Linked DNA regions of Homo sapiens. The protein of the gene in region 1 interacts with the protein of each later gene in a pairwise test. Each region holds a gene or a part of one and is shown on either strand. Other genes may lie near its edges.

Region 1 (3,656 bases):
AAAAAACTTGGAATATATAGGGTTTGTTATTATCCATGATTTCAGGCACCTACTGCAGGTGTTGAAACATAGCTTCCTCCATGGGTAAGCAGGGACTACAGTATCTCCATCAATGTCAGCTTATCAGTTGGTGCATTTCCTTAGTTTCCACACTACAAGATGCCCTAGGCTCATCTTGTATATTTCCTGCCCCTTTCCTAAAATTAGCCATTTCTCCTAGGAACCCTGTTCGTTTTATTCGAGAATGGCATTAGAAGCCAAGTTCTGGGCTCTAGATGTGCTCATTGATACTGGTGCATCTAGGCTCTCTCAGCTGACAGAGCAAGAAAATATATGTATATACCAACATATATATATATGTGTAACCATCCATACCTGTATTAAGCTAAACATGAGTTCACACTGATGTCTCCAACATGAATCCAGTGCCAAAAGCATTTTCTTTTTAGAGAGATGGGGTCTCACTACATTGCCCAGGCTGGTATCAAACTCCTGGGCTCAAGGTATCCTCCTACCTTGGCCTCCCAAAGTGCTGGGATTATACGCGTGAGCCAACACAACCAGCCCAGAAGCATTATTTGTAATAGCAAAAACAAGGAAAGAAAGATAGAAATGTCCATCCAGAGGACATTAAATACATTGTGGTACGTCTGTACATTGGAACATTAATCAATTTTTAATGACAACGCTACATGTACTAATATAAAAAATTACATATTACATGATAAATACATATGCACATACAAACACAATTTCTGGAAGGAAAGAAAACAAAAGGTTAACAGTAGTTAACTTTGGGAAATGGGAATGGGGTCATAGCATGCATTGTCAATGTAGTGATTTCATCCTCAAGGAGATAAGAGAAAAGATCTTGGATATTACAATGGCTTATGGCCCTTCAAAGAGTCACAGTGCATAAAACGCCTAAAAAGTTTCCTTAGGAGAGTGATAATGAAATAAAGATTGAGAAACAATGGGTCAGATAGAATAGTTAATTGTACTTTTCACTTTACACACTTGTTTTCTATGAGCATGTGTTTATTTTTGCATTTATTTTAAAAAAGGTTCACAGCTGGGTGCGGTGGCTCACGCCTGTAATCCCAGCACTTTGGGAGGCCTAGGCGGGTGGATCACAAGGTCAGGAGTTCGAGACCAGCCTGACCAACATAGTGAAACCCCATCTCTACTAAAAATACAAAAATTAGCCGGGTGTGGTGGCACATGCCTGTAGTCCCAGCTACTTGGGAGGCTGAGGCGGAAGAATTGCTTGAACCTGGGAGGCGGAGGTTGCAGTGAGCCGAGACCACGCCATTGCACTCCAGCCTGGGTGACAGAGTGAGACTCTGTCTCAAATAAATAAATACATAAATAAATAAATAATATTAAGGAAATAGTGAAATTCTGACTAGAAGACATAGTTCCTTAGCCCACACTGCATGTTCATCTCATGGGGGGTTGCCAAACTGTTGTTCTTCAGCAACCACTCCCTAACTTTCAGAGGAAAATGCATTGTTGATAAGTACCTGGTGATTCAGATGCAGCTGGCCCTTGTACCACACTTTGAAAAATACTGATGTAAAACCAAGTTTGCACTTGAAAACAAGGCAACATTTAATTCCAAACAGCTTTCTACTGGCTGATCTCATATGCACCCAAGATTGTCAATGCTTCCGTTTTCCCAGACTGACGTGGTCATTGTGGTAGGCAATAGTTTCAGACTGTTTTGTCAAAATAATGCTCCAGTTATTTCCTGGCCTAGAAGCCAATGGAATACTGGATGCATCTTTTAATTACTAACTTGCTCTAAGAATAAGCTTGACTAGATTTCCATGTGAACTTAAGTATCATCTCAATAATCTTGGGGAAAACGATACTAACTCTAAAGGTGAAAAGAGGTTTAAAATTGCTTTAAAACCAATTACCTCACCATAGGAAATCCATTTTAAATACTGTTAGCCCAAAAATTGCCCATTATTGGGGTGGTGGTGGTTGTTTTCCTCTTATGTATGTCCTTATTATTAAATAGCCATCTCTCTTCAAAATTTCATCAACTTGGAAATGACATGGCATTACTACACTGAACAGTTTAGCAGACATGTGTTGTCTGTGTCTGCCCGGTCAGCATCCTCATGGTAGTGCACCCCATTCTGTTTTGGACTATTCCTCCAATCTTTGCAGGGGCTGCCAATTAAAGTATCCTGCCCTCCCGTGGCCAAAGTATTTGAATACATGAGATTGGCCAAACTAGGCCAATCAGACACTCCTCCTGGAATTTACATGCCTAGCACTATCTCTAGACCAGGAACTCCTCACCAGCAGAGGCAAGGTCTTATTCAGCTCTATCTCTCTGATGCCTAGCACAGTGCCTGGCTATGAATATTCAATGCATGTGGGCTGAATGAATTATACAGAAAATCATGCACCTTAAACAAATGCTGAACTAAGTCTATCATTTTCCCACTGAATTCCGGAGGGGGAGCAAATTGTATGATGTTTTGTAAGGGAAATATCCACTTTAGTAGCTAGGAAATATGCCTCGGAAATAGTATCCAAAGTTGCCATTTCTCGGTGCATTAAAGATGTCAATCAGTCCAATAAAATAAAGCCCCAAAAAAGACAAAAGGAGAATTACCTCATTACCTCAACATCTGCTTGAACATAAGCAATCACACACTGGCTAATTTTTTTTAAAGGGACATAATATAACTTTCTGGAAAGACATAATATAGCTAATTATACCATTCACTAGGAGGGAACATAAAATGTTTTGAAGTAATTCAGAAGTGGGTGTGATTTATAAGACATAGAGCTTAGGGAATGGTAAGTATAAATTAGAGATTGTTCATATTATGACAGACTCCGTCATTACATTTCACAACTTTTGTCAAAAGCAACCTTATTCACCACACCACTAAAGGCTTCACGTTAGGGAAGGCTGCTGTCAGCTTTGTGGTTTAGAGTAGACAGGAATCTCCTTTCTGAACACTCTCCTGGGGAACTGGTTCAAGTTTTAGACTTAAAACTTACTAAGGCAGGGCAAAATGAAGAGAGATTGTTTAATGGGTTCAAACATAGTTAGATACAAGGAGTAAGTTTTAACATTTTGATAGCAAAGTAGGGTGACTACAGTTAACAACAATGTATTATATATTTCAAAAGAGATAGAAGAGAGGACTTGAAATGTTCTCAACTCATTGAAATGATAAATACTGGAGGTAATGGATATCCCAAATACCCTGACTTGATCATTATGCATTCTAAGCATGTAACAAAATACCCCATGTCTTCTATAAATATGTACAAGTCTCATGTATCAGTTTAAAAAAAAATCACTAAGGAAGGACCCATATGATGAAACCTAAATGGCCAATGGCCATGTAAAAAGATTTCAAACATCACTAATAACCAGAGCAATGCAAATCTTAAAAGGTAACATTCTGCCCATTAGATTGGCAAAAATTCAAAAACTTGTCAGGCCATCAAATGAATAAAGATTGCTATTAGCCAGAGTTGACCAATGTGTGGGGAAATGGGTACTGCTGAAGGATATCTGAACTGGTATAATCATTTTGGAGGGCACTTTTGCAATGTCTAGCAAAAGTAAATGTCCGTGCCCTCTAATCCAACAATTCCATTTCTTCTAAGAATCTATCCTA
Region 2 (3,656 bases), on another chromosome or scaffold:
ATGGGGCTGGCACAGCCTCTTCCTCCATATTCAGTGTTCCCATGAACATTTGCCTCCGCTGCCTCCAAGCATCTAATCCCACAGAAGCCTACAGCATATTCTATATTCTTACTCTCCCATCCTCAGCAATGGGGCGGTAGAGGTATGGGGGAGAGTGTGGGGCCCCTCGTGCCTGTGATTAATAAAGGCTGATGATGTGAGATCCCCCAAGACACAAATAAACCAACCACTGATGAGAGTTCCTTGCCCAAAACAAATACCTAGATCACCTCGAGGTCCACATTTTTCTACCCAGATTTCTATACAAATATTCAATGAAGCCTATTCTAAAACAGTAGCCACCAAGGATTTAATAGCTATTGATTTGGGTGAGTCATAACAGACACATCTGGTAATTAACCATCCTACCCACATTCTGCTGTCACGTTAAGGACCCGGATAGAGGTTGCTAACTTGGGCTGCCAACTTAAACAACTTGTGAAAGGAGGATTCTGTCTGTTAGACAGCATTCCACATTTCTTGTGCATTTCCTTTTCACTAGCCAACGAAATAGACAAGTGACTAGCCTTTGCAGGAACTGACAAGAACTAGATCCGGCAGGAGTGATAAAGTAGTCATGGTTCCCGTTTTGCTGGTAGAGGCCATTGTTGTCATTGTTGGGTGTCTTCAGCTCATTCCTAAAGTCTCACAGGTAATATTCCAAAGCATTGTTATTTCTACCCTGCAAGCTACATATCAGTTATTAAAAATGCTCTACAGCCGAGATTAAAAAATAAACATGGCAATTAAGCAGACTGGGACTTGGATTTTCTGTATCTCTATGGAACCCAAGATCAAATCACACCACAGCGGGGCTAACTGTGAAAAGAATTGAATCTTGAGTTTCTCTCGTGAGAAAGTATATTTCCTTAAAGTAATAAGTTTCCTTATTATATAGGAAATATAGCTGTCTTTTGTATTTAAAAAAATAAATTAAATTAAAATATACATAGAATTGCAGCAGTTCTAATTATCTTTCTACTTGTCTTTCTCTTATGATACAATCACAGAAATGTTCCCATCATCCAGCAGTTCATGCTTATGAGAAGAATCAATGCTTTACTCAATATTAGGAAGATTAATCAATGGTAAGAGAGTCCACTGCAATCACCCACCTGAAGTGGCATGGATGGCTCTTCAGTATACGGCATGGGCTACCTCCCAACAGCCCCCCTCAGCCCCTGTGACCCATTCACGCTGGTCCTAACACCAGCTTCTACCTGATCATTGTGGTGACTCCATGATAATGCTGAAGCCACTTTGGGACCCTCAGGTCATCAAGGTCAACACTGGGAGTGGTATCACCATACTGCTGTTTTGCAGAAGCATCCAATAATGAGAAAGTTGGGATATTTAGAAAGAACTATAAGCTGGCTTTTACTGTTTTATTTTCAGTGTGAAAAAAGTGTAAATTTTATGTAAAACCAGACTTAAAACTGTTTCCTGTTTCTTCATTTTAATACTAAAAGAGTCAAGGCTTGTATGAATCAAAATCAGTAATTAAATAGTTCAAATTTCTTTCCATCACCTTATCAAAATGCCAATTTCATAGTCTGGAGAGACTAGCGACAAAATGATCCATTTTATAGATGGTTCTTTATAAGACAAAAGGCAAACACTTTCCACAGCATCATCTTCTAGGGCAGGTCTGATTTTGTCCAGATTTCCAACCTGTAAATCAGCAGTATTTGCATAAAAATTCAACGATTCTACTATTAATAAAACCCAAAGCCCACTTGGAACCAGGAAAACCAGAATGCTATAAGTAACAAATACAGGCCTAGAAAGGAAAACTATTTCATTTCTTTTTTTATGCTAAATTGTATATACTTAAGGAACCTGGGGGACATTAGCTAAGTGATATATGCCAGACACACACATACAAAATCCATGATCTCACTTATATATGGAATCTTATAAAGACTATTTCATTTATAAGAGCATGTGGCATTCTTTTTCCCTTGTCCAATAACATTTGTGTCAATCACAAAGCCTGGGGTGATATTGTCTGCCCGACACAGACTGACAAATAAGGACTTCATATATTGCAATTTAAAACCCCAGAGTTTGAGAACAGGTTAACATGGAGGGACTTGTGATAATCACAGGATCCTAAATTTGAACTCTTCTCTCAGTAATTGCTTTATTACTGAGATGTATGCAGATTTCACCCTCCTACTATTCTGCCGTGAAACATCTTTAAGAAAGGCAAGGCTTATTGCAGAATAAATATTTGTAGCAGTGCTGCAAGTTCAATGTCCTCCCTTCACCTCCAGTCTTTTGTTCAGACCTACTCAAGCTGTTTCCAGATAATATATATATTGCCTTCTCATCCCCAGCTTCCCAAGCCTAACATAGACTTAAAGACTGAGAGCACTTCTAGAATATTCTGCAGAGAGTCCAAAGAGATTTCATAATATTTCTGCAAGGGTTGGTATGCTTTTTTTTTTGTTTTTTTCTCCTACAAAATGCTGTACAGAGCTGGGACGTTAGGGGAAGCTAGCATTTAGTATGGAGGTGATCTCTTGCATTTTCAATTCTTTCTTTCACTGTCTTTGCGGCTGCACTTAAAAACAGCTTTCTATAAATAGGACTGCTTGCTCACTCTTAAATCTTACTCACTGTCTTCTCAGTAAAAAAAATAACTAGGGATACAGGCAAGATTCATTAATCCCTGTCATTCTAACTCTCTGTGTAGTAGCCTCTTTCCTTCTTCATATCTTGACATATATCTTCTCAATCCCATTCATCCCTCTCTGTTAAACCATAATATGTATTTACATAATCCAGGGGGCTTCAAGATCAAAAATTAATCCAGTTGCATGATTTTTAAAAAATCAGCGTTGATCACATAGAACAAATAGAGATGTCCAAAAATCAAAAGCTGATAAATATTGTAAGCTATAAGACACTTAATTTGATTTTTATATTTGGACAAAAATCAACTTTAACAATGATTAAGATATCCTTTCATGTTACTTTGATGAAGATAGCAACTGTCATATTTGAATCTGCAAAATAAGAAATAAAGATAATGACAAAAAACCCATAAATCCATAGGATGCTGAAGAAAACAGTAGTATGACTTTTTAAAGATGAATTAAGGCCTGAGAAAGTAAGCTTTGTTTTGATGTCCTGGGTGGCTCTTTGATGAAGAAATGAATTCCCAAGAGCTGGGGGTGGCGGAGTGGGCGGGGAACCTAAATGTCGGTTTGATGTTTCTGGCTGGCTTTCAAAATGCGACAGGGCAATAAACACTGTATAGGAATTTTAAATCATGCCATTTAGCAGCGTACACTTGAGAACAAGGGGTCCAGCACATGGATGAAATTATTGTCTGTGACACTTGACCCACTGCACGGCAGGAAGAGCACCTAAAGCAATTACATAGCTGTTGTGCAACAGTGATGAAGTCCCATCAGATACTCGAAATATGAATCTCTTTTTGAAAAGAGAAGAAAATGCCCCAAGCCACAGGCGTTTCTGGAAAATAAACATTTCTACCGTGATTGAGTCACTACGACAGAAAAAGGTGGGTAGAGCAAAAGAGTCCAGTGGTTTAGTCAGAATGCAAGATAGGGACCAGGAGAGCAAGTCCAGGAAAGCAAACTAAGAGG

What was found. The genes of interacting proteins can lie anywhere in the genome.
Region 2: the proteins of SHTN1 (region 1) and DSCAM interact in a two-hybrid assay, tested with the Homo sapiens proteins (one large-scale study listed by BioGRID and IntAct).

The regions. Positions count from the first base shown.
Region 1 is NC_000010.11:116,998,563-117,002,218, forward strand, and holds part of SHTN1 (shootin-1), read right to left. Parts: intron 1-3,656. UniProt on the Homo sapiens protein: Involved in the generation of internal asymmetric signals required for neuronal polarization and neurite outgrowth.
Region 2 is NC_000021.9:40,837,158-40,840,813, forward strand, and holds part of DSCAM (cell adhesion molecule DSCAM isoform CHD2-42 precursor), read right to left. Parts: intron 1-3,656. UniProt on the Homo sapiens protein: Cell adhesion molecule that plays a role in neuronal self-avoidance. Promotes repulsion between specific neuronal processes of either the same cell or the same subtype of cells.